Regions from separate parts of the Homo sapiens genome. Here all the other regions are linked to region 5. Evidence: fine-mapped expression QTL. A gene starts in region 5. Each other region holds a variant in brackets. All regions are shown on one strand. Distances are between the middles of the regions.

Region 1 (5,107 bases), 38 kb after region 5:
ACCCTTCACCAGAGAGATCTGGGTCAGAGAGAGATTTGATCCCTCTGGAGAGATCCCTCAGGAGAGATTGCCCCTGATTCCAGTTGATTACAAGGCTGCAACTGGGTCTGGAGACTTCACTCCAAAAGGTGGGAGTTCCCCTTGGGGATGGGACCAAAGAGGTACATGGGGTTGTGGGGCTGCCGGTCTCATGCTGTAATTCCTGCAGTTGAATGAAGCCAATGAACAGTACGTCGAGCTGGAGGAGCGAATGGAATACGTACGGGCACTCCACGAACTCATCCGCAACCACTTTAGCCTCTTTAGTGCTGAGAATGAAGCACTGGACATCTCGGTGAGAAGGCAATTCGGGGAGTCACCCATCCCTCCCTGCCCTCCTCCCCCACAACCACATCTACTCCACTGCCCTCTGCTTGCCCCACAGCTTCTGGATATGTGGGAGGCATTTCAGTTTGAGAAAAGCCAGGCTTCAGAGTTCCTGCTCAGCAAGCGACATGCCATTATGCCCAAGCTGCAGCAGCTGATGGCAGCAGCATTGGCAGAGCTGGAAGGCCTGCTTGCGAAGGCCCTCTCCGGTCCCTTTATGGACCCCACACAAGATCAGAGGAGTACTGAGCACCAGCTCGTCTCCCTAGAGCGTCAGTTCCAGAACACAGTCAGCGACCTCAGTGAACTGCACCACGCCTATGCCATCTTCACTGGTACTGAGGATCCCTGCACCCTCCATTATCACTCTGTGATAGACCCTTCAACTGAAGTAAGAGTTGGAACTCAGGGTTCTGTGTCCTGTATGACCCCAAGCAAGCCTTGGGAATCACACACCTTCACTGGTGTCTTTTATAAATGAAAATTTCAGGACAAAAACATCATATATTGACCATGGCAGGTGTTGTGCTTAGGGTGGGGGTATGGGGGCTCACAGTCTGGTAAGGAAGGCAAACAAGTGAATGTTCCATCAGAATGTGATGGGGTCAGGGGCTAAAAGCATGTGTGGGAGAAATGTAAGTTCTCCTTATAGAACGTAGCCTTTTTGTAGCCCTGTTCAACACAGTCCTACACCAGGCAGCAGGCCCCGAACAAGAGTAGGTCTTGATGCTCTAGCAGATCACTTCCTCCAGCCAGTGTGGTATAGAGAGGAGGCTACTGAGGGCCTCACTAATACACAGGAGGAGGCCAGGACAGAACTATTGGTCTCAATTCTTTCATACAGTGGTGCAGGTAAGCTGGTTCCCTTCTGTTCTTAAAGAACTCTGTGGGCTCTGGAAGGAGACCAGAGCAAATATAAGAGCCATTACCAAACAATGGAGACAGGATCTCAGGCTAGAGTGCAGTGTCATGATCACAGCTCACTGCAGCCTCAGCCTCCCAGGCTCAAGCAATCCTCCCATCTCAGCCTCCTGAGTAGCTGGGACTACAGGTGTGTGCCACCATGCCTGGCTAATTTTTGTATTTTTTGTAGAGATGAGGACTCACTTTGTTGCTCAGGCTGGTCTTGAACTCCTGGACTCAGGCAGTCCTTCTGCCACAGCCTCCCAAAGCACTGGGATTACAGGTGTAAGCCACTGCGCCTGGCCTTCCTTCCAGAATTCTTATATGTATGTTGGATTTACTGAATCTCTCTCACTCATTGCTTTTATCTTCTTTATCATCAGTCATTCCTTTATTCTTTTTCTCTGAGTTCTGGAAAAATGTTGTGAGCTTGTTTTATAAGCTTCCATTTCCTATGGTATCACTTTGTATTTCTATTGCATTTTAAAACACACATTTTGCATGTGTATGCATGCTTATGTACACATGTATACGCATGTAACTGTGTGTTTATGTGTATATACATGTGCACACATTTGCTATCTCTATCTGCTGAAGAGGACATGAAGCAAAGAAACCCCAGTAGCAAGAAGCCACATTGTGCTCAGGTCTTAGTTTCTAACAAACACCATTCCCCATTAAAAGGAACCAGAGCTCCTTAGAGAAATGGATGATTCCAGGGCTGTGGCAGGGTAGGTACAAGATGAACCTAAAGTGTC[A/G]TTTTATACCAGAAAGTAAGAAAGTATTAAAGTGTTTAAAAAAGTGATGGGAGCATATCACAAGGATTCAGAAGGGATACCAACTGGCTAAATCTGGAACAATTTGATCACCAAAGTAAGTACAATAATAAATTCTAAGCTATTGAAGTAAAGGCATTTATTATGCGTAGTAATAATAAATAGATAATGAGAGAGAAATGAGGACTCATGCTTACAGTAAAATGCCAGGAGCTGACTGGCATAAATGTGGAAGGAAGGCTGGAGTGGGAAAATTATTATTTTGCAACCATCATGGTAATTACCAGATCAGATAAGGATCAACAGATGCCAAATCTAGGGCAAATTTGATGAGGAGCAGAATATTTGCACTGTCTTTGAGAGTTTCTCCCAGAGATCACTTATTTGTTGTAAAAAAAAAGAAAGAAAGAAAAAGAAACAACAATTAGTGGAGAAATCAGACAATAATTTGACCAGGTGATTAAAAATTAACATCACCAATGAAGGACATAGGGACATGATCTGCCTTCAGATGTGATACTGGAGAAGGAAGGATACAATATCACTTATGTAGTAGTCCAGCTGAGAATGAGTATCATTTTTAAAAACCATAAAAACACAACATGAGGAACTTTCTATGAACAAAAAAAATGGCAAAAGGGGACTGTATACTTCAAAGATGTCTGTTACAAAAGAAAGAAAGGCTATGGAAATGTTCCAGATTAAAAGAAACTAAGAGACATGACAAATGCAGTGCTTGACCCTGGACCAGATGCTATAATTGAGGCAAAAAATGCAATCTAGGACATTATTAGGTCAACTGACAAAACTGAAATATGGACAGTAGATTAAAATATTGTATCAATATAATATATGAAATTTGGAATTGCACTGTGGTTATATAAAAGAATATCCCTACTCTTAGGAAATGCATACTTGAGTATTTATGTAACTTGCCCTTAAATAGTTCAGAAAAAAAAATTGTGTGTGTGTATATGTGCATACACATGCCCATGCACAGAGCATGTGAATGCAAATGATAAAGCAAATGGGTAAAATGTCAACAAAAGGCAAAGATAAACAGTATAGATATATATCTATACCTATGGAAGATAGAAGGTACACAATTTTTTTTTACTACTTTTTCCTACAACTTTGAAGATTGGAACTCATTTTCAGATAAAAAGTTTTAAAATGCATGGAAATTATCAAGTAGATATCACAAAATGTCTGTCAAAGGACATTTGCTCTTAATCCCCAGTTTGTCTTTATCTTTTCATGTGTTTGGAGATGATATCTCTGCTCTTTCTTACAGATGAAGTTGTTTATTTGTCTAATATTTGATGTTGAAACAACTGCTGTCAAAGATTGTATGGGACTCTAGCCATATCTTTGAGTTTAGACAAAGACTGGAAGAGTTTAGATTTACTGTCATTTTACTTTTTGTCAGATCAGAGCTTTGATAGCCTAGTGATTCCAGCTTTTTAATACTCTGAGATCTCCAAAATGGATGATGTGCACATGTGTAAGATGCATGAGGCCCAGCATTTGGGTGTGACTCTATCACTTTTTGTCCCACTCAAGAAAGTAAACTGGAGTTCAAGTTAATGAGATATCTGTTGTCTTTTAAGTAAATTGCAAACCTCGATATTATAATTATTGTTAATTATAAATTCCTATTGACACTTATCTCACAACTGACTATAAGTAACTGATTAAGAACTAATGTAGTACCCTGTGAGATGAAGGGGTGGAGGATAATGGCCGGAGGTAAACATGACAGGTCCTCTATGTGGGCCAGATCTTTTTTATATTCATCTTGCTGAACTTTCTTTTGGGCTGACAGTTCATTCGCTCATTCATTCATTCATTCATTCAACACATATTTGTTGAGAGACTGCTGTGTACACTAGGCTTGAGGTACATCAGTGAACAAATGATAAAATGCTTTTCTTAATGGACCCAAACTTCTAGTTGGGAGAGAAAGACAATAAACAATGATGATAACCAAATTCTGTAGTATATAAGAAAGTGATAAGTGATAGAGAAAAAAAAAAAATAGAACAGAGTAAGAGGGGTTGAAAATGCCGGGAAGGGTAGCTAGGAATTTTTAACCAGATAGCCTGCATAGGCCTCATTAAGAAGGTGCTGTCTGGCTAGGCGCAATGGCTCATGCCTATAATCCCAGCACTTTGGGAGGCCGAGGCGGGCGGATCACGAGGTCAGGAGTTCGAGACAAGCCTGGCCAACATAGTGAAACCCTGTCTCTACTAAAAATACAAAAATTAGCCTGACATGGTGGTGTGCGCCTGTATTCCCAGCTACTTGGGAGGCTGAGGCAGGAGAATCACTTGAACCCGGGAGGCAGAGGTTGCAGTGAGCCGAGATCACGCCACTGCACACCAGCCCAGGTAACAGTGCAAGACTCTGTCTCAAAAAAAAAAGAAGATGCTGTTTGTTTGAACAAGGACTTGAAGCTGGTGAGGGCATGAGCCATGTGATTCTCTGAAGGAAGAGTGTTCCAGAAAGAATAGACTGCTAGTCAAAGGCCCTTAGCAGGAGGGTGCATATCTGGTGCATCTCAGCCATAGTAAAGCGTCCAGTGTCACTAGAATGGAGTGAATGAGATGGAGACTAATTAAAGAGGAACTCTTCCCTTTCACTGCCATCACATTTTCCCAGATGGTCTTTCCCTGGAGTAACTGTTCCTTGGATTAACCCCACCTCCATTGTTGAGCCAAACAATTTGGAACTCCACCTCCCCCACCCCCAACCATCACTTTCTGGACCCTACCTTCTGTCATTATGGGCTCTTGACTGATCATTCCACCACCCCCCTCCCAACACTGCAAGTAGCCCAGGTCTCAAGTCAGCCCTCCCCCACAGAGGATGAGACTCCTGTGCCCTTGCCAATCTGTGGGACACGTCCTATTGTGCAGCAGCAGCGCATATGGCACCTGTACCGAGTCATCTCCGAAAACATCAGCGAGTGGAAGTGCATGGCTTTTGCCAAGGTGCTGACACCCTTCCTTGGAGCTCTTGACTGGGAGTGGAGGACTACAGTGGTGGGGGAGGGGAAGAGT
Region 2 (5,128 bases), 21 kb before region 5:
GCCCTGCCCGCGCCTCCGCCTGTCCCCGCGCCGGCGCCGCCGCCGGACTAGCCGCACAGGCCGGAGGGAGGGGCCGGGGCGGGGCTGCGGACCGGCCGGGGGAGGGGGTGACTCCAGTAGGGAAGACCCACCCACGCCCCGCCCGCCGCCGCGGAGGCCCCGCCCACCCCGCCTGCCCACCCCTACCGCACCCGCACGCCCCCCCGCCAACGCCTCCACCTCCTGCGGACGCTGCCTCCTTGGTGCTGCTAGGGAGCCGGCGGGCCGGCGAGCCGGATCCCGGATCTCGGATCCCGGATCTCCGCCAGCTGCCTCCGGCTCCGGGAAGGGCGGTGTAGTCGGTCTCAGGGATTGAGATGAGACTCCGTCAAGAAAAGGCAGCTGGGGCAGCAGGGATTTCGGACTCTGGGAGCCTGTCTGGGCCGCCTGCCTCCTGGAGGCGCCCTTTCCGGCTTCCTTGGAGTGCTCCTATGGAATATGCTAGTCTATCGGCTGACCAGGAAGACGTAGAAACCGTCTGTACCTCAGCACGATCTCTGGGCGGCAGAAGGGCAGTACCCAGAACTCTGGGAGAAGGAGTTAAGGGGTAGAAAGGTGGGGGATTTGATTAGGCTTTGGGCGCTTCAGGAGCCCCCTCCTGAGGAAATTCTGGTTCAGACCATCCAGCGACTCCCTTCCTCACACCAAAGACACTGGACAATTCTCAGAATCATCGCCTTGTGCAAAAAGCAGCCCCAAGTGGAAAATAATTGTAACAGTTTACAGGGACTGAGTGGTTATTATGTGCCGACACAGAACTAGCCACTTTACATATATTATTTAATAGTCAGTAGGTAGCATCTTTTATTAGCCCAATTTTACAATGGGAAAAAATAGGGATCTTGCTCCCCAGACGTTAGCCCTCATCACTCAGCTAGAAAGTGGCAGAACCTGGAGTTGAGCCCTGTTTTTAGGCCCTACAACCAGCATTTGGAGACTCGGTACCTTTCATGTTGAAAAATCCCCAGTGGCCCATTAAGTGGCAGCTCATATAAGGACCACCTTCCCTGCCCCAAAAATCAAGCTCTAGTCAGATGATTGCAGGCTGATCAAAGCCCAGAAGACTGTCTGGGAGCTGCAGTATCCATGACAAAGGGCAAAGTCATGCCTGTGAGGATCCCTGCACTATGGGAATCTGCTGAGTGGGTCTTCCCCTTCCTCCAGCCTTCCAGAGGTGGGGAAAATCCTGAAAAATTCTGGTTTCCTTGGCCAAAGGGCATACAGGTGATGACACCTAGCCCTGACTAAACCAAAGTGCTGTTAGGGATCTTTCTTGTGACCTCTCCACAAGGTTCAGATTTAGGCTCAACACCTGGGTGCAGCAGGAGCTTTGGGAACCGCCTCAACCTCTTATCCACCTGAGTTCAGCACATAGCACAAGATGCTCCAGTGCTTGTGAAGGAAACCCAGACGGGGATCATGCTTGCAGTTTTGGGCTGGGGCTACTATGCTACCCAAGATGAGGGAACTGGAGTCTAGATGACACTATCTTAAGCCTCAGAGGACTACTTTTCTCAACTCTATACTTCTCCCATGCAGTCAAATTTCTGCTTAAAACACTTCTCAGCTCCTTCTCCAGAGGGCAAAAGTCCTTAACCAGCCTGCAGTCTTCATCTAGCCACTCCCTCTTCATTTTTCATTCCAAGCAATTCCTCCCAGTTCCTACTCAGAGCCTTCATTATATGCTAGCCTCTCTGCCTGGGATGCTCTTCCCTTTACCCTGCCTGTTTGTCATCTACTCACCCTTCAGGTCTCAGCTTTTTTTTTTTTTTTTTTGAGATGGAGTCCCGCTCTGTTGCCCAGGCTGGAGTGCAGTGGCGCAATCTTGGCTCCACTGCAAGCTCCGCCTCCCGGGTTCACACCATTCTCCTGCCTCAGCCTCCCGAGTAGCTGGGACTACAGGACTACAGGCGCCAGCCACCGTGCCGGGCTAATTTTCTTGCATTTTTAGTAGAGATGGGTTTTCACCGTGTTAGCCAGGATGGTCTTGATCTCCTGACCTGGTGATCCGCCCGCCTCGGCCTCCCAAAGTGCTGGGATTACAGGAGTGAGCCACCGCACCTGGCCAGGTCTCAGCTTTCAAACTGACATCCCCATTTCCACCCCAGTCCATGCCAGATGCCCCTCCTTTGTGCTCCCACAGCGCCCTCTGTACTTCTGTATCCTAATACTTATCACTGTTTTGTAGTTGCCTGGTTACTTCTTTCCCTCAGTAGGCCCTAAGCACTGTGGGCAGGGACCGTGTTTTATTCACTGATGTTTCCCCAGGGCCTAACGCAGTCCCTGGCAAATGAAAGCACTCAGTAAATATTTGCTGTATGAATGAATGCATGATGAAGGTCAGCAAACCCAACCCCCTCTGGATCTGGTGCTCTTAAGATCCATAGCTATCTTGGTGCTGGCTAAAGGACAAAGCTTTGGCTCCAACTGAGGCTGGGAGAGAAGACTGGGCCTTCAAACCATCTCTGAAACCTGTGACTTCAGCTGCCTGGCCCCAGCTCTTTTGACTTGATAGGGTTCTGGTGTTTGATTAGACTGAGCTTGTCTCCACCCAGGCCACCCTCCTAGAGTCCCCGACAAATTGACCTCGCTGGGCCTGCTTTTATGAAAGGTTTATTCCTAGTGCTAGATCCCAATCTTCTTGGGCTCTAAGCACAATTAAACTGGGTGGGTGGGTGAGGGTAGGCCTATTCAGATGCAAGGCCAGCAATGGGGCTCCCCATTATCCCCACCCCTTTGGTCCCAGTCCCCTTCTCTGCAATGGGCACGCATAGAGGAGAGACAAAGGGTATTAGACGCAACATCATTGGCCCAGGGGAGTCCGAGAAGAGCTGCCATTGGCTGACAGGGCATTTTCAGGCTCTGTCATTGGTCAGGGAGCACACCCCAGCCTGAAGAGTGATGCCATTGGCCAGGGAGTGGTTTTGTCATAGCCGTTGGCTGTGAAGTGGAAGGAAAAGATCTGGGAATGAAGCCCTGTGGCCAGGAAGATAGACAGGGCAGCAACTTCTGGGCCTCCAGG[C/T]CCTCTTCCCACCATAGCAATGTGGGCAAAACTGGTGTCAGGCCCCAGCCAGAAAAAGGAGCCCAAGCCAGAGGGCAAGTGACAAAGGATGTACCATGTCCAATCTCCCACACCCTGGGGCTGCCCTTCCCAATGTCTTTCTTGATAGCCAAGTTGGGCTGGGAGCAGCTCACTGCTCCTCTAGCCAGGAGGGTTTCTCAGCTCCTGGAGGCCGCAGCTTGATGTTGAACTGCTGCAGGGTCTGCTCCAGCTGTTTCTGGTTCCCAGCAAAGTAGGCGGACACAGCATTGTGGAAGAGCAGCAGCTGCTTGTGCATCACCTTGATCTGGGGGTCCAGCAGGGTCAGCTAAGGCTGGACTCAGGCGCCCTTCTTGAGGGTCTATGAGCCTGAGCCCAGGCACAGACCAGGGGCACAAGGACTCTGCTCTGATGGTGCTTTTGGGGTAGGGGCTGAACTCTACCCAGGGAGTCAAAGGAGAAGGGTCAGTATGATGGAAGAAACCTCACTGGATTTGTGGGCCTAGGGTTTTTGTACCCCAGCTCAGGGGGTGATTTTTCCCAGTTATGTTCCTGGGACCAGCAGCCAAATCCTCCAACAGGAAAGGGCCAGGAATTGGAGGGAGGGTGATCTGGAAAGGCCCAGGGGTTGAGGGGGTGAACACTCTACTCCCCAGCTAGGCTGCATTTCCTCATTCAATAATGGGGAGGGTCTGAGGGGAAGGTTAGTGTTACAGATGGAAAGGTGGGCTAGGGTCAAGGGGGTGGGGTTGGCACCTTGTTTTCTTCCAGGAACTTGAGCTTGATGGCCACATCTCCCCGCAGCTTCTCATACTTGTCCCGATGGGCCTGGAAAGTGGCCTGGGCACTCTCAAGTCGACCACGTGTCCCTGCATCCCGGGGGCCTAGACTCAGCTCCTCTAAGTCTGTTCGGTAGGCATCATATTCCAGCCTGGGGAGGGGGTGATAAAGGCTGGTCTCCACTCCTTTATCCTCAACACATACTCTCCTTTCCTTCCTGAATTCTTATGCCCCTAATGCCCAAATTTCCACCCATACCAGCCAACTCCCCAAACCCTAAGCCCTGCCAGTGCCCACACCTGGCAGCCTCATACTGTTTCACAGTCATGAGCGTGTCTTCCATGGTCTTGGTGACCAATGTGTTGATGCTAGAGACAAAGAAGTTCACGGCTCCTAGCAGCGTTTCCCCATTCTTGCATAGTAGTTTCTGTGTCTCTGCATTGTAGCCAAATTCCTCCTGAGGGCAGAAGGGAGGAACAGACCTTGAATAACACTCCCTACCTGACTGAAGCTGTAGAGCCCTTCATTCCCCTCCTCCCCGGGGAGGACACAGCCAGCAAAACTGGAACAACCAAGGACTGCCTCCAGCAAGGCTCTCTTAGCCGGAAAGTTAGTGGGATCACCCTGGGGATACCTGGGGTAGGAATGTGGGTGGTGGGCATTCTTGGGTAAGTTCACAAGACTGGAACAGTCTGAGAGCTAGTGTGGCAAGCAGGGGAGGGGCTCTGATTAGGCTGAGCACGAAGGCATTCTCCCCAGTGCAGAGAGGGGTTATTTGTGAGGCACCTAGTGTGCCCCCTCCCCCACCCCCTCCAACTTCTGGACCTCTGTACAAACCCTTAGGCTGCCTCCACAGGTGAGTGCTGCTGGGGGTAGGGCTGGGCCCACCCTGAAGGGGTTCTCCCTGTGGGCTGCAGGAGGGAGGGAGGATGAGGAATGACTGCCTGGGAGGGCCCATGCCCAGTTCCCCCACCCTCTTTGGTCTGGGTGAGGCACCTGAAGCTCTGGGGACTTCTGGCTGAGGTCAGCAAAGGCATCACCCAGTGCATGCTGGGTCTGCAGCAGGCTGTAGAGGTGGGCTGTCAGTGCCCGGCCCAGCTGCAGGACACTCTCATACTTGCGCTTCGTCTCACGCAGCAACTCAATCTGCAGCTCTAGCTCCAGGTCCACAGTCCGTGAGCCTCGACCAAATCGTTCTGATAACAGTTGCTTTGTGCACTGATTGGGAAATGGGGGAATAAATCAGAGACCCTAACAGCCTCCCCACAC
Region 3 (5,128 bases), 31 kb after region 5:
CCTCTCATGACTTCTATCATTTTTCTATTGTCTTTTAGCTTGTTTTGAAATAGGCTATAGTTTTGCTCTGGTTTTTGACATGCTTTCATTGTCTCTGGGGATTTATTCTATGCCTCGCTTTGTTTTTTTCTTATAAAAGCTTGGTATGGGGTTTGATGCTGATACTTTTCTACTGCTCATAGAAAACTGGAAATTTTAGCTTTTCTTAACTTTCAAAAGAAGACTTGGTTCAAAATAGTTCTCTAACCTCTAAGTTTCACTTTCTATTGTTTTTCTGTATTAAAAAAAGATGGCTTACTTTCTGAGGTTTTCTGGTTTCCCTCCCCTACCTTCATCTAGACTTTTCCTTTTTCTCTATTGCTGCTCAATCCTTATTCTACTCCCAGCATTTTCTCCATGACGAGCTCTGTCCCAAAAGGGAGCCCTGACTGTTTGGTTTCAAGAGTACACAGGGCATAGATTACTTAAGCTTCTATAGACCTTACCTCACCTGTTCTTGGAGGGGGTAAGACCCCCTTCCAGTTTTACCTGCTGTTCTGAAATGGGCCCTCTGCCTCCCAGTAAATGCTTGATGACTGTTTGGGGGTTTTCTTATTCTTAGGTCCATCTGTTGCTTCATTGTTTCCCTCTGCATCATTCATCACAAATGGTGATGCCATGTGTGTTTTGAGGTTGCAGATGGTTTGACCCCACCTACTTGTATTTTAGGATCTGTGAGGATCCCTTGCCCTCATTTGTTAAAAAATGCTATCCTTGTGTTTTTGGTTTTATTATCTAATTGTTCTGTCATTTTTACGTGGGCATTTGGGGGAGATTTCAAAATGATGCTGCCATTGCCATCATCTTCTCAGAATCCCTTCTGGCATTTTTTTTAAAGGATGATTCTTTTTCTTATATGGAGCAGAGACTGTAAAGTATAGGAGGCAAGGGCCAATGCAGGTAGAAAAGTTAGAAGGCTTTTGCAATAATGCAGTAAGAGATGATGGTGACTTGGGCTGGGGGAGGAGGGCAGGTGGTGGTCAATGTGGTGAGAATTGGTGGATTCTGGATATATTTTTAAAGTAACGACAACAGGATTTTTAAATGGGATGTGTTGTATGTGAAAAAGAGTCAAAGGTGACTATAAAGATTTTGACTGGAGAAACTGGAAGAACAGAGTTTCCATTTACTGAAGTTGGAAGACTGCAGTTTTGGCGGGGAGGAATTAGAGTTCATTTTGGCTCTGTTAAATTTGAGGTGCATGTTAGACATCCAGATAGAGAAGTGAATTAGGCAGTTCTTTAAATGGGATTGGAGTTAAGTGAGAGATCTGGGCTACAGATAAATCTGGGAGCAAATATATGGTACTTACAGCCATAAAGCTGGATGAGATTTCCTAGAGAGTGAGTACAGTTGGAGAAGAGAAGAGATCAGCTAGGAGTACTACAGGGTTTGGGTGTGGATAGTATGGCTCTTATTCTGAACATTTTAATTCTTTCCTTTATTTTGTGCGAAGTTTTAACACAAATACTAAACTTGTCAATTAACCAGTTCCTAAAGAGTTAATGAGTGGCTAGGTTCAAGAATATTCTCTAAGACAGATAACTGAGGACTGGCATGTTCAATATTCATTCCCAGCAACTCCTCTGTTCTGCAGATGCCAGAGACTACAAACTACACTTCCCAGACTCGCCTGCAGCTAGGTGTCATATACAATTTAGGATCCACCAGTTAGATCTACAAAAGACTTTGATTCAGAATTGAATTAAGAGGGGGAAAGAGTCAGGGCGTATGCCATCCGTTCTGTGGATCATAGCAGAGGCAGTGTGTTCTGTAGTTGATGGTGTGACAGTGATATCCCATTTTGCCAGGCAGAACACAGCCCTAGATGCTCAACCTTGAGTGGTTTTGTATTTTAGCTCTCCTATTATTCTGCAACCCATTTAATATTCTGTAATAAGTCCCTCCCTGCTTAGACTAGCTAGAGTAAATTATGTTATTTGCACATGAACCCTAACTAATAAATCCCCTCCATGGGTCTAGTATTTTACGTTTGTGATATAGATGTATGTGTTAACTCACTCATGAGCAGCGAATG[G/GGTGTGT]GTGTGTGTGTGTGTGTGTGTGTGTGTGTGTGTACACACACTGAGGGCAAGGAGAAAGGAAGATTGTTTGTGGGCTCTGGAGGGTACTCACGGACAATTATGGCCTGTGCTCCACTAGAAGAAGATGAAGAGGAGGACTCAAAAGACGAATTTCTGATGCCCAAGTTCCAGGGCCAGCCCAGCGATGCTGTGAGCATCTTCTGTGGCCCGAATGTGGGATTGGTGTGGCCCTGGAAGTCTCACCCAATTGCTGGTATCTTGGAGGTCCGTGGATGTCGGCTGCGGGGCCAATACTTCCCCCACAATTATAAGCAGCTGGAGGAAGACCTGGACAACAACCCTAAGATCCAGCAGGCACTGAATATACAACAGGTGCTGCTGGAGGTGAGAACAGTGGTTTAAGGGATAGGGCGCTGCCCACCAATTCCCATTATAGCCGCATGCCTCTGCCCTAAACACCTTGTCTGCCCTTAGGGCGTGCTGTGCAAGGTGCAGGAATTCTGCAGGGAACATCATTGGATAACAGGCATTTATGAATTCCTGCAATCCTGGGGGCCTCAGAAGCTGGAAGACATGAGAGGTGGTCCCATCAAGAACTACGTGACGCTGGTGAGCCGCCTGAATGTTTGGCAGGCCCGTGTCTCCAGTATGCCTATCGAGTTGCTCACAAAAGGCGGGTTGCTGCTACTTAGCTGCCATGATGTACAGGCAGAGATGGGTGAGTACTGCTTCTCTTCCCTCTCCTCCTTCCCTTTTCTGTATGTCTATTCACATGGCCTGCCTTGGTCCTGGAATGTCCTCCGGAGACCTTCGGTGCAGGCCTCTTATTGGACCTATGAAGCCTTCCAAAGCCCGAGGTCCCAGGCCCTTTCCTTTGCCATCAAAGCTATGCTCACTGCAAAGGCCGGCCTCTCTGTTTTGGCTCTGCTCATACCCTGTATTCCTTAGGAATCATGTTCCTGTGCTTGGGCTACTAAGCTCAGTGTCTTTACAGAGATTCTTGGGAATCTAGGGTGCTTTCTCTCTGCATGTAGCTGAGTGAAATTTATACTACGATTTGCATATGTAAAAAGCTACTCTCTAACTGAGCTTGTCTTACTCTGTAGTCCTAACTTCTACTGGTAGTGAAAGAATGTAACCTTTCCAATTAAAGAAAGCTCCTTTCATTTAAAGCAGTCACTTTTGGTCTGATTCAGTCTATTTGGGATATCTGGGCAATTGAAAATTTATACTGTAGTTCTGGGTTGTTTTTACTTTCAAATGTCTTTTCCTCCCTTTTCCTTCCCAAGGTGCCACCTGTACTGGGGAAGGCCGGTGGGCTGGCTTCTGAGGTGTGATACATCCTTGCCTGGTCTCTGCCCTCCTGACATTGCTGCTTCTGGTGCTGCTGTGTCCTGGGCTGGTAGAGCTGCGATGTGTTTTCTTGGACTAATAGGGACCTGGAGTGTCTGTCTTTGCTGACCTGTCCTTGTCTTAACATTTGCTGGCATAGCTGATCCTTGGGGTTTTAGTGAATCCTTCATCCAGTCTCTGTCTTAGGCTGGCTACCCCCATGGCTTTTGCTTCAGGGTCCCTAGCCCCTCAACACAGGAACTTCATCTAGGCCACTGGCTATCAATTCTCTGCTATCATCTATATCCCCTGCCATTTGGGAGTTGTGGGAAACTGGTAAGCATTATATCCGCCCCTCTTTTTACTACAACACATAACAGTATGATTTCTACTCTGCTGTGACTGTTTCATGTTAGCAAGGGACACCCTAAAAGGTGGTCTTTCCCAAAGTTCTATGTGGAAAGTGGGGCTCAAGACCATTCTACTACCTATTTTCTCCTCAACCCATCTCAGGTTCCCTCCTCTTGCCACTTCTACCCCTGCTAATTGAACGCCCAATTGTTGCTATCCCTGGGTCTCTGAGAAATCTGGCTTATGACCTAGTCTTTTACCCTCTTTTCTTTCTTCCTTCCCATGGGAAGGATATCTCATGCTATTGTGTACTAGCTAGTGCCTCAGCCTAGGAGTTCGCCACAGAGAGGCTCACAGCGGGGTAGATTTGGAAGCCAGTGATTTGTTCTTTTAGGAAATATGGAGGTTGTTCTCTTTCCTCACCTAGCCTCAAGGATGGCAATAGCCAATAGTATCTACTTCCTGTGAAGACTAGATCCTGTTGGACCCGTGGCTTCCCAGGCCTGCTTTCTTTATGAAGGTTAGAAGCCACTGGGGCCTGGAAAGAGTTTGCTTGTATGCCCTGCTTGCTTCGCCTTCCCTGTCTTGGCTCTCAACAGATGAAAGCACATGTATCATTAGGTATCCAGTGGGCCACTAAAACTCCCTCCTCTTGTACAGGGGGTTCAGGCGGGCAAGGCAGGAACCGGGAGGACGTTTGATTGTTTTGTCTTCTCTCTGGCCGTGTTTTGGTCAGGCTTTACTTCACTGCTGCTGAGAAAGCTTATTGTTGTTCTAGTTTGTTAGCTTCCTGATCCTCAATCCAGGACCAACTAGTCTCTTTAAGAGGAGCAGGTGGAGAGAAATGAGCACTGGATTTAGAACCCTGTCTGTTTTTCACTTGCTTTGTAACTTCAGATTACTGTGTTTTAGTTTCTTTATTTGTAAGCTGGGCATGATAACACAGTCACTCACAGGGTTATAGTAAGGATGACTAAGATATTATTTGCAATACTCTTAGCATTGAGTGTGGCATGCAGTAGGTGCTTAATATTTTTTTCATTTCACCTTATCCCCTTGTATCTACTCTCATCCTTCTTGCTGATCTAATTTTATCTAACCCTCTGACTTAACTCTGTCGTTTCTCTTCTTCCTGAACTCCCTTGAACAACAAATGGCGTAATTATACACTCTGACGAATTAGCTTCACCAGAAACTTGGGGTCACCCTTTACTCCTCCCTCTCCTTGACCTTACTACATCCAACCTGTCTCCAAATCCTTGTCATTCTTCTGCCCCCTAAGTATCTCTTAAATCTGTTTTTATCCATCTCCAGCTTCTAATCCCAAGGAGTCCTGGTATTTTATCAATGCATTGCTCCTTTATACCA
Region 4 (5,128 bases), 93 kb before region 5:
TCTGATGCTGGATGAACTCCCACCCTCGAATCCCAAGCCCTATTCCCACCTTCCACTGTCCCGCCCGACGCCCCACACGCGGATGCTGATGATGGGTTGGGCGTGCAGCAGTGCCTGGCTCTGTGGCTCCACTAGCTTTAGTGTCTCATCCTCCAGCTGCAGTAGCAGATCCTTTCCCTGCAGGACCAGAAGCAGGCACTCAGTGGGACTCCAGCCAGGATGGTGGCTGATCTCTGACCCCTGCAGCTCAGGGGATGTTAGCCACAGCTCTGGGGCCCCTGCTTTGGTGTCAGACCGCCCGCCCTGCAGGCCTCACTCTAGTGGAGGTCACGTGTCATCTCTCACATTGACTCCACCGTTGTTAGGCGACTATCTCCCAAGGTCCTGGCCTGGGGTCGCTCATCCATCCCACAGGGCTGCCACTTAGGATGGGCCAATATCCCCCTTCCCCAGCCTGCTTGTGGGCAGGTCAGACCTCCCATCTCTCATAATTCCCTTCACACTCTCACAGTACCACCCCCTACCCCCGGCTCAGGTCCTTACTTCCCCCCAGCCCCCAGACATGGGGTCATGCAGGTTGTTTTTGTGGTAAGAGAGCTGACGGATGCAATTGTTGACTGCCACACTGCTGCGTCCAGGGGCCAGCTCCTCCTCGGTCATCTCTACCCAGCCTAGGGAGCGCACGGCGAAACACTGCCAGACACAGAAGAGGGGCAGGAGGTAGAGGATCTGAGTCAAAACTGGAGAGTTCCTGACTACAGAGTGTGGCAGGAGGCAGGGTGTTCTGAACTAAGACGGAGAAGCTCCCCAAACAGGATGTGGTTAGGGAGAGGGGGATGTGGTTAGGGTGAGGGAGATGTCAGATGAGACCCCAGCTAGTACAAAAAAGCACCTGAACTAAGACTACAAGGGCCCCCAACCTGGCTGTTGGGCTGGTTGATTTAAAAACTGAAGTGCCTCCAGCTCAGACACAGGGCTCTGTGCTGAGACTGGAAGAACTCCTAACTCAGGACCTGGGGAACTGCGCTGAGACCCCTCAGAGCACAACATTAGGGGCTGTCTGACAAATAAGAGGGCCCCAGACTCAGAATGGGTGTCAGTCTTGAACAAACCTTGATCCCTGGGTTGGTATTCCGTGGGGGAAGCTTCTCCTCCTCTTGGGGCAACGGCTCTGGGCTGAAGGCAGATGGTAATACTTGGCACAGGGCTCCCATAAATGGAGCTGTCCCAAGGCCCCTTCCAGACAGATCCATCCCACTGCCAGCTCACTGCATCTGGCAGCTCACCTGAGGCTCTGAGCTGGGAAGGTCAACGTCCCCTCCTCAGGTTCCTTCAGTCCCAGCTCCATTGGGGCCTCATCACTGGGTTCATCCTTGGGAAGGGGATTGAGGAATCAGTATCAAAATGATGCCCCTCCTCCAGCTATCCCGTGGTAAAGCAGGTCCCCTTACCCACCTTCCAAAATTCTCCATCCTCAAAGCCTTCTCCATGAGCAAAACCTGTCCAGGTGAGCTAGGAGGAGGGATGGGAGTAGTGAGTGAGTGTCCTATCCTACTCCAGCAGCACACACTCCCTCCACCCCTGGCCCAAAATCAACAGGCCTGTGAGCCTCACCTGGGACTCCTCTTGGGGGCTGCTCCCCTGTGAGGGGGAGGCCCGGCCGGGGGGTTCCCACTGGGTGGTCCCTGTTGGGATGTGCCAGTAATAGGTCCCTGAGGTGTCCTGGACCCTCATCCATCCAGCCGGCAGGTCGGAATCCGTCTCGAAGGCGTTGGGGTTCCAGAAGGAATCTGCCAGGTGGGAGGCTTGGTGAGGGTCAGCCTACCCAAAGAGCAGACAGCTGGTGCCTATGCCCGGTCCCCTCTGAGACCCCATGGTTGAGAAGGGGTGGTGGAAGAGCTATACCACAACACAGTTCCTGCTTCTGCCTAGAGCCTATAGTCTGGAGTCACCACATGTGGGGCCACCAGTAGGGGACATGGCTCAGGTCTCCTCCTGGGCCCTGTTGGTGGCTAATGTGGCCACACTGTGGAAAGGAGGAAGGCAGGGAGGGAAGAAGGAAGGGAGCAATGAATGTTGGGTGACCCCAATTAACCTCCTTTCATAC[A/G]TATCTATTATCTCAGTTAACACGAAGGTGAACACTTTCTAGCTCCTGCACACGTACATGTATACACAGACACACAACACATACAAGCCCTACCACACACCTGTGCAGCCACAAACACCAGGGTATGCAACACAGAAAATGCCAGCACAGATGGCAGGTATCACACACAGGTGCACATGTATGTGCAGGGGCACACACACACAAACTTTAGCCATACACTTATGCAGACACCACAGAGGTGTGTGTGCATGCAGCTAAACATACGAGCCCCTGCCACACAGGTGTGCAGATACCACACCACAATGGCCCCAACACACGTGTGGGTACCACACACACAGGCGGACCCACACTCAGACACACGGCACACGTCAAACCCTGCCAAATGTGTGCAGACACCACAGACGCTCACTTCCTGACCCTTGCTGCACACAGATGCAAGCAAACATGTCATGCACATACACACATACCTCGCATCTGTGTCATACACCCTTGTCTGCCGGCAGAGCCACACCACTCCAACCCTGTAACCCGCTCATGCGTCCTCTAACTCTTCTCTCCCTGTCAGCCCCACCCCACATGAGGCCCAACCTCATGCTGCCCCTCACCTGCGCTGCTGTCCTGCAGGATAATGGCCAGGAAAAAGTCCTGGGAGAACATGGCGCTCATTCCCGGCCCCTCCTGCCTCCACCCTCCCTCCTCACAGCCCCTCCAGCCCAGCCAGCTGGGCTCACAGCCTGGTGCTGGGCTGCAGAGAAAAGCTCATCCCGCCCCCTTCTCACCAGGGCAGAGCGTCTGCCAGGCAAGATCCTCCCCCGCTTGGAGCTTGCTAGGGAGGGGCCAGGACCACCATGCTAGGGAATCTCCTTGGGGGGTGGGGAAGGGAGGAGAAAGGGAGGTTCATGAGACCCCAGCCCCTTCTGCTCACACCTCTTCTTCCTCGCCCTGGCTCCCCTCCCCCAATCCTGAATCTCCATCCCACCCTCCAGTGGTTACCTCAGTGCCTAAGCCAAGCCCAGTCTTAGGGATACCAGGAGACTCAGCCCCTAAGGAATACCCCAGCTGCCTGGGGCCCTGCAGAGCCTATAGCTGTCAGCATAAATAGGGTGTGGTTTCAAGGCCTTCAGGGATCCCGCCCCTGTCCAGGACCTGCACAGCAGTTTGAACCCAAGGGTGGGCTTTGAGGTCCTGAGCCCCAGCAAGCTTGAGGCTGGGCTTGGGGCTTCCCAGCACCACCCCCCACCCCTCACCTGCCAGGGCCCAGCTAGGCTGCAGCGTCTCCTCGGCAACCGCAGCACCAGGACCGGCTGGGAGCGCCCAGACTGCTGACGTGCTTCCCGTTACCAGGGAAACCAGGAATCCTGACTGGTCCAAGAGGCAGTACTAAGGGACAGGCAGTCCCAAGACCCTGCTGCTGGGCAACCAGACACAGCAGGGCTGGGAGTGGGCGTGGTTACGCCAAGGTGGCTGCACACCTGACGAGAGTTATTCAGGCAGGGTGCTTCACCATCCTCAGCTTCCAAATGACGTGGGCCCACAGACACCCAAAGAGGAGGGGCTCTTGCCCATCCACCTTCTAGGCAGCCATCACCGCCTCTCCTCACCCCCACTTCCCCCTAACTCACACTCTATGGAATAAGGTTTTCAATAGGCACCTGAAACTTAGCTGAGGCTCAGGGAATACCTGCTGTTCCCTAGAGACCCTCCATTGCCTCAGGACTCTCCTGCTAAAACCTTCCAGGAACAGCACCCTAGGGCCTCCATGCCCTCCACAGCCACAGCCTGCTTCATGAGGGCTGGCTGGACACTTCTGGAATCTGGGGACCAGTTCACCATCTCCTGACTGAGTCACACACACCAATCCATCTGCCATCCCTGTCAGCCTGTACCTTCCTGCTTCAAAGAGCTTCATCCTTCCGATCTGTCCTGGAAGGGCAGTTTCTCCCCCCTTGGCCATCTGGGAGGCCCTTCTGGAGCTTGGCACATCTCCCTCCAAGCGCAGCCCACCCCGGCCTTTGCTTTCACACACATGCATTTATTCCAGAACGCACACCTTCACTCCTGCATCGATTCATGCGACACTTACATATAAAATACATTAAATGTTCACGTATCATTCCTTCCTTCCTTCATTCGTTCATCCACAAATGCCTTAGTGGTGAAGCCAGGTGTACTCACTTGCTCAGGAATCAGTGATTGACTTAAAGCTTTCCCCTTCTCTCCACCCCACATAACTAACATAGCCCAGGCTACTAGCTTTTTTTTTTTTAACCTGCATCATTGCAAAAACATCATAACTGGTCTTTCTCTTCCTATCTGGTCTCCTCCAATCTCAGCTGCACAGTACAGCCCAAATGATTCTTCTGAGATGCTAAACTAATCAAGTAATTTTCCAACGGAATCCTCTTAATTGTTTTGTCACTGCCCTCAGGATAAAGTCCAAATTCCTCCCCAGGTTTTATGTGCTGTCATGAACCCCTGTCTGCCTCTCAGCCTTACCTCCAGCCACTCCCCTTCTCTCTCTTTGCTTGGGACATGCCCCCTTGTCCTCTCCCAGCCCACCTCCCTTACTCTCGATTTTCACCTGGCTATCACCTACCTCTCCTTCAGACATCAGTATACAGGTCCCTTCTTAAAACTGACCCATTGCCCTCTCCCCCACCACTCTCACAGGCAGGGTCAGGGGCCCCTCCTGTACTTCCCCAGCCCCAGAGAGCTCATCGCACTGATCATAACCACTTGTTTCTTTCTTTGTCTCCTCACCAGGCTGTGAAGGCCAGGAGGTAAGAACATCTTTGCCCCATAGTATACATTTCCAGCATTTACGATAAGGCCTGGAGCAGAGTATGAATTCAATACAGGTAGTAAAGTTTATTCATTCATCATTCATTTAATTCATGAATTCATGCATTTATGCATTCAATCCATAGCTCTATGAATATCCTACAATAGGAAGGAGAATATAATTTTTGCTCAATTCTAGCCTCATTTCTGCAGGAGCACAAACCTTCTCTGCAGCCCTCA
Region 5 (5,000 bases):
TCTGCTGTCTACAAACTAGAGAACCAGGAAATCTGGTGGTGGAATTCAATCCAAGTTTGAAGGCCTGAGAACCAGGAGCACTGATGTCCATGGACAGAAGATGAATGTCTCAGCTAAAACAGCAAGTCCACCAGCTGCCTGTTTAAATTCTGTTTAGGCAACAGATTGTACAATGCCCATCCACATTGGTGAGGATGATCTTTACTTAGTCTACCTATTCAAATACTAATCTCTTCCAGGAATACCCTCAAAGACACACCCAGAAATAATGCTTTACCAGCTATCTGAGCATCCCTTAGCTCCGTCAAATTGACAAATAAAATTAACCATCACAGCCGGGCATAATAGCTCGCGCCTGTAATCCCAGCACTTTAGGGGTGAGGTGGGAGGATTGCTAGAGGCCAGAGGCTCGAGACCAGCCTGGGCAACATAGTGAGACCCTGTCTCTACAAAAAAATAAATAAATAACAGTCATAACTTGTGTATCTCCTAACTGATACACAAGCAGACAGCACAGCTTGTATGTAGTCTGTGAGGTGGGGGTATGGCTGGTGTGATTCAGGCACAGCAGTAGTAGAGTGTGAATGTGAAGAGAGAAGCCTACAGAGGTAGCAGGCAGTTATCAGCAATTTGTAGGCCATGATAGGACTTTGGCCTTCAGCTGAAGGAATTAGATGAGGGGGCATTAGTGAGCTATGAGCAGAGGAGTTATAGGATCTGCCTATATTTGAAAAGGATCACTGGCTGCTCTAAAAAGAATGGATTGTAGGGGCAATGGTGAGAAGCATGAGAAGGATCTGAGGCAAGGAGAACAGTTCAAAGGCTGTGGAAAAACCCAGGTGAGAAATGATAGCAGCTTAGACCAAGGTTGTAGTACTTAAGATGGTGGGAAATAGTTGGATTCTGGATATATTCTGAAGGCACAACCAGCAGAATTTCCTGAAGGATTACTTATGGAGGGAGGGGGAGAGAGAGAAAGAGAAAGGGAAAAAGAAGAGGGAAAGAGAAAGAAGGGGTTTGGAAGAGGTCTCAAAGCTGACTCCAAGGTTTTGGTGTGAGAAACCAGAAAGAATGGATTTGCCATTGACTGAGGTGGGAAAGACAGTGAAAGGAGCAGCATTTCTTTGGTGGGGAAAGGGTGGTTAGGAGCCTGCTTTTGGACATTTTAAGTTTGAGATACCTATAAGCTCTCCAGGTGGAGACATTAAGTAGGCAGTTGGATATACTAATCTGATTTCAGAGGAGAGGTGGGCTGAATTTCTTTTTTTATTTTAATCATCAACTTTTTTTTTTTTTTTTTTTTTTTTGAGATAGAGTCTCCCTCTGTCGCCCAGGCTGGAGTGCAGTGGCGCGATCTCTGCTCACTGCAAGCTCCGCCTCCTGGGTTCACGCCATTCTCCTGCCTCAGCCTCCCCAGTAGCTGGGACTACAGGCGCCCACCGCCACGCTCGGCTAATTTTTTTGTATTTTTAGTAGAGACAGGGTTTCACCGTGTTAGCCAGGATGGTCTCGATCTCCTGACCTCGTGATCCACCCGCCTCGGCCTCTCAAAATGCTGGGATTACAGGCATGAGCCACCGCGCCCGGCCTCATTCAACTTAATTTTTAAAAATTAGCCCCTCCATAAGCCCTTCCCCAAAAAATCCCCCTCCCCCCGTGCCAAATAGATGTTGAGCTCCTTGAGATCAAGGATTTTGTTTTATTCGGGCTTCTTTTGGGGAGGTGGGATAGGGTAGATGGATACGTTGGGGGTGGGGATGGGGGAGTACCAAAGACATACCAAAGACCTGGCACTAGTTTAGATACTCAGCGAATGGATATAAACACCTGCTTACGACACCCTCTGGATTGCTAGTCTCCCGAGTCAACCGTACTGCACGTGCAGTTCAGACCCCGCCTGGTCCTCTACAGGTCCCTGTCCCAGGCAAGCCTTAGCCCACAGGTTGAACCTAGTTCTGCCCCTCCAGGCTTGGGCTCTGCCCTCTCGGCCCCGCCCATATCGGACCCTGGCCCCTCCTCTTTCTGGCTCCCCCGGATGCTCCTGGCAAAGACTCGGTCCTTCTGGAATCTTGTAACGGTTCTAACAGCTGGGTGCGGGTGGAGCTGCGGGTGAGTCCTCGGCTCCGGATCCATTTCTCTTTGTTCCCTAGGACCCCCTCCCACAGAGTCCGCCTCCTCTTCCCCGCTCTCCCAGCCCCCTCCTTTGCCTGTTAACGTCTTCCCCTACCTGCATCCTGACCATCATTTGCTGTGCCTGCTCCTCGGCTTTCTGTCTTCACGACCTCCTTAGGCTGTGGGCGAAGACGTCATGGGACTGGGGCTCTGCTGCCTTCGAGTGACGACCTGTTAACCCGTTTTTCAGGCGATCGCCAGCTCGAGTGCAGATTCCTTGCTGTGACCGAGGTTCAGAGTGAGCTCTGTCGGTGTGTCAGTTTGCCTCTTCAGGTGATTGCACGTCTGTGTGCGAGTCTCTCCGTGTATGGGTGGCTATGATTAGGGTGAGCCTCAGACTGGAACTCAAGTCTAAGTTCATTCACTGCTCCAGCAGGCACTCTTCAATGAAACCTCATCAGCAGATCGGGCTCTCTTCCCTTGCCTTGCCTCCTAACCCCCCTAGGCCAGGTGAGGGGGACAGGGTACTGGGAGGTAAGAAGGAACTCTTCTGCAAGGAGGGCTCTCACGTCTGTCTTAGGCCTGCTCCTTACCAGAGTCTTTGGGGAAGCAGTAGGGAGGGCCTGAGGGTCTCAGGAAAGGCTCTCTGCTGGTCTGGCTCTGCTCTGTAGCTCCATCTATTTCCCTGTCCCAGGTCCTTTCTTCCTCCTAACCCCATTGACTCTGACCATCCCCTGCCCAGAGCCTGAGGTCCCTTCTCTGGCCCCTCTGCTGGGCTGGCCCATGCAGGTGAGGCCCCGCATCTGGCATCCTGGAACTGGCAGTTGGAGCCTGAGCTATGGGCAAGGTCACTTCGACAGCAGTTGAATGCCCAGCTCCTCATGGTCCCGGAGGAGAGGAGGGTAGGTTTGTCTTCTGATGAGACATCATCTGATTCCCTTAAGTCTTGGCACTCCATATGTGTCTTGGACAGCAAAGAACAGCCCTTGGCCTGCCAGCAGAAACAGAGGCAGTTCGTGAAGCCAGTGACTGAGTCAGAGCAGCCCACAGTGCTGGAACTCCTGCTAGCTGAGCTCCGAACTCTGTTCTCAGCTGTGTTGCAGGACAGTAGCCCTGCAGCTTGGCGCTATCTTCATGCAGTACTGGGTCTACTGCCTCCATATCGTGAGTTGCTAGTTGGCCACCTTGATTTGCTGCCCTTCCTGGAGCAGCTGTACTGCTGGGCACCCTGGGTCCAAACCCACCTCCATCTGGACCTGCTAGGTGCCATTGTCCAGGCCTTTCCTCCAGACAGCTCTTTGTTAGACAGTGCTTCCCATGCTGACTGCTGTCCCCAGAAGCGGAGGCTCCATCACAGGCCCCCATGCCCAGCTTGCCCTTTTGTGCAGGCCCAGTGGAGCAGGCAGCAAGTAAAGGAGGAGCTGGCCACCTGGCTGCGACCATTGACACTGCCTGAGCTACAGCGCTGCCTGGGCATTGTTGGTGCTCAGGTGGCCCTAGAAGAGGCTGTGTGGCTGGATGGACTTAGTCTCCTTCCCTTGGCACTGGCAGCGGACATCCCTGTACGGTATGAAAGCAGTGACACTGACAATGCAGAGGTGGAGCCTGTTGGAAGAAAAGAGACCAGGTAAGTGAGGGACTCAGTCTAGGGCTTGAGCAGAGGAGAAAAAGTTGCTGTTTTATGGGTGCCTCTGGGGTCACTTGGAAGTTTAGATCCAGCTCTCTGTTTATCACAGGGATTAGCCCAACTCCACACAAAGCTAGTGTGAGGCTACTTTCCTCTTCCTTTTTCTCTGCAAAATAAACCCAGTGGTGTTAGTCTTAATCCCCATAGAGAAATACAGAAATTAATGAAAATCAGAAGTCAGCTATGAGGCAGCCAAAGCTTTAGAATAACAGCTTGACTTTTCAGTTTCCAGGTTTTTTTCTTAGATGATGTCAGAAGTCTCCTTAATTATTTTTCTATAATTCATTCATAATCACTGAACATTGCCTGGGCCTACTGTGAGTTGATTCCTGGATGTTGGGTCTTTCCCTCAAGGTACCCCTGGGGAATGTGTGTCCGAGTGTCCTTCCCACATGTCTATGTGACTTAAACCGGCTCCAAGGCAGAGTGGAGTTGGCAGCACTACTGGATAGAATTTCATTTTGACCCTTCCAGAGTCTTCTTCTTGCCCTGCCAGTGTGGGCACTCTGGCCCCTTGAGTGATATATTTTTCTTTTGTTTCTTTCTTTCTTTCTTTCCTTTTTTGAGATAGAGTCTCACTCTGTCGCCCAGGCTGGAGTGCAACGGCATGGTCTCGGTTCACCGCAACCTCCGCCTCCCGGGTTCAAGTGATTCTCCTGCCTCAGCCTCCTGAGTAGCTGGGACTACAGGCACGTGCCACCATACTCAGCTAATTTTTATATTTTTAGTAGAGACGGAGTTTCACTATGTTGGCCAGGCTGGTCTCGAATTCCTGACCTCATGATCCGCCCACCTCTGCCTCCCAAAGTGCTGGGATTACAGGCGTGAGTCACTGCGCCCGGCCCTATTGTTTTCTTTTTTAAAATATCTGGCTATCAGAGCTCTCTACAGGATTTCAGAATGCTTACAGAGACCTTCTCTTCTCAGCGTTCTCTAACTTTCGATTTTTTTTTTTTTTTCTGAAACAGAGTCTCACTCTGTCGCCCAGGCTAGAGTGCAGTGGCCTGACCTTGGCTCACTGCAACCTCTGCCTCACAGGTTCAAGCGATTCTTTTGCCTCAGCCTCCCGAGTAGCTGGGATTACAGGCTCATGCCACCACGCTCAGCTGATTTTTGTATTTTCAGTAGAGACAGTGTTTCGCCATGTTGACCAGGCTAGGTTTCCAACTCCTGGTCTCAAGTGATCTGCTCACCTCGGCCT

Evidence for each region. PIP is the estimated chance that this variant, and not a neighbour inherited with it, causes the effect.
Region 1: its variant is fine-mapped to the expression of DNHD1 in whole blood (TOPMed, PIP 0.98).
Region 2: its variant is fine-mapped to the expression of DNHD1 in whole blood (TOPMed, PIP 0.96).
Region 3: its variant is fine-mapped to the expression of DNHD1 in whole blood (INTERVAL, PIP above 0.99).
Region 4: its variant is fine-mapped to the expression of DNHD1 in whole blood (TOPMed, PIP 0.95).

What each region holds. Positions count from the first base shown.
Region 1 is chr11:6,533,473-6,538,579 of GRCh38, forward strand. DNHD1 (dynein heavy chain domain 1) reads left to right here. Exons shown (of 43, transcript NM_144666.3): 14 at 209-701; 15 at 4,911-5,038. Among named protein-coding and RNA genes, the nearest start is that of DNHD1, 39 kb to the left of the region's middle. The variant A/G (reference allele first, on the strand shown) is at 2,028.
Region 2 is chr11:6,473,883-6,479,010 of GRCh38, forward strand. It overlaps TRIM3 (tripartite motif containing 3), which reads right to left and starts at 59. Exons shown (of 12, transcript NM_033278.4): 1 at 1-59. It overlaps ARFIP2 (ARF interacting protein 2), which reads right to left. Exons shown (of 8, transcript NM_001376558.2): 5 at 4,856-5,077; 6 at 4,159-4,316; 7 at 3,836-4,010; 8 at 2,637-3,386. The coding sequence ends at 3,231. RefSeq lists an enhancer at 1-598 and a silencer at 1-185. The variant C/T (reference allele first, on the strand shown) is at 3,062.
Region 3 is chr11:6,526,327-6,531,454 of GRCh38, forward strand. It overlaps DNHD1 (dynein heavy chain domain 1), which reads left to right. Exons shown (of 43, transcript NM_144666.3): 11 at 2,196-2,461; 12 at 2,552-2,795. Among named protein-coding and RNA genes, the nearest start is that of DNHD1, 32 kb to the left of the region's middle. The variant G/GGTGTGT (reference allele first, on the strand shown) is at 2,078.
Region 4 is chr11:6,402,033-6,407,160 of GRCh38, forward strand. It overlaps APBB1 (amyloid beta precursor protein binding family B member 1), which reads right to left. Exons shown (of 15, transcript NM_001164.5): 3 at 1,615-1,790; 4 at 1,456-1,512; 5 at 1,287-1,372; 6 at 1,113-1,176; 7 at 544-693; 8 at 50-177. Among named protein-coding and RNA genes, the nearest start is that of SMPD1, 14 kb to the left of the region's middle. RefSeq lists a silencer at 3,287-3,581. The variant A/G (reference allele first, on the strand shown) is at 2,108.
Region 5 is chr11:6,495,223-6,500,222 of GRCh38, forward strand. DNHD1 (dynein heavy chain domain 1) reads left to right here and starts at 2,058. Exons shown (of 43, transcript NM_144666.3): 1 at 2,058-2,109; 2 at 2,363-2,445; 3 at 2,549-3,739. The coding sequence starts at 2,994.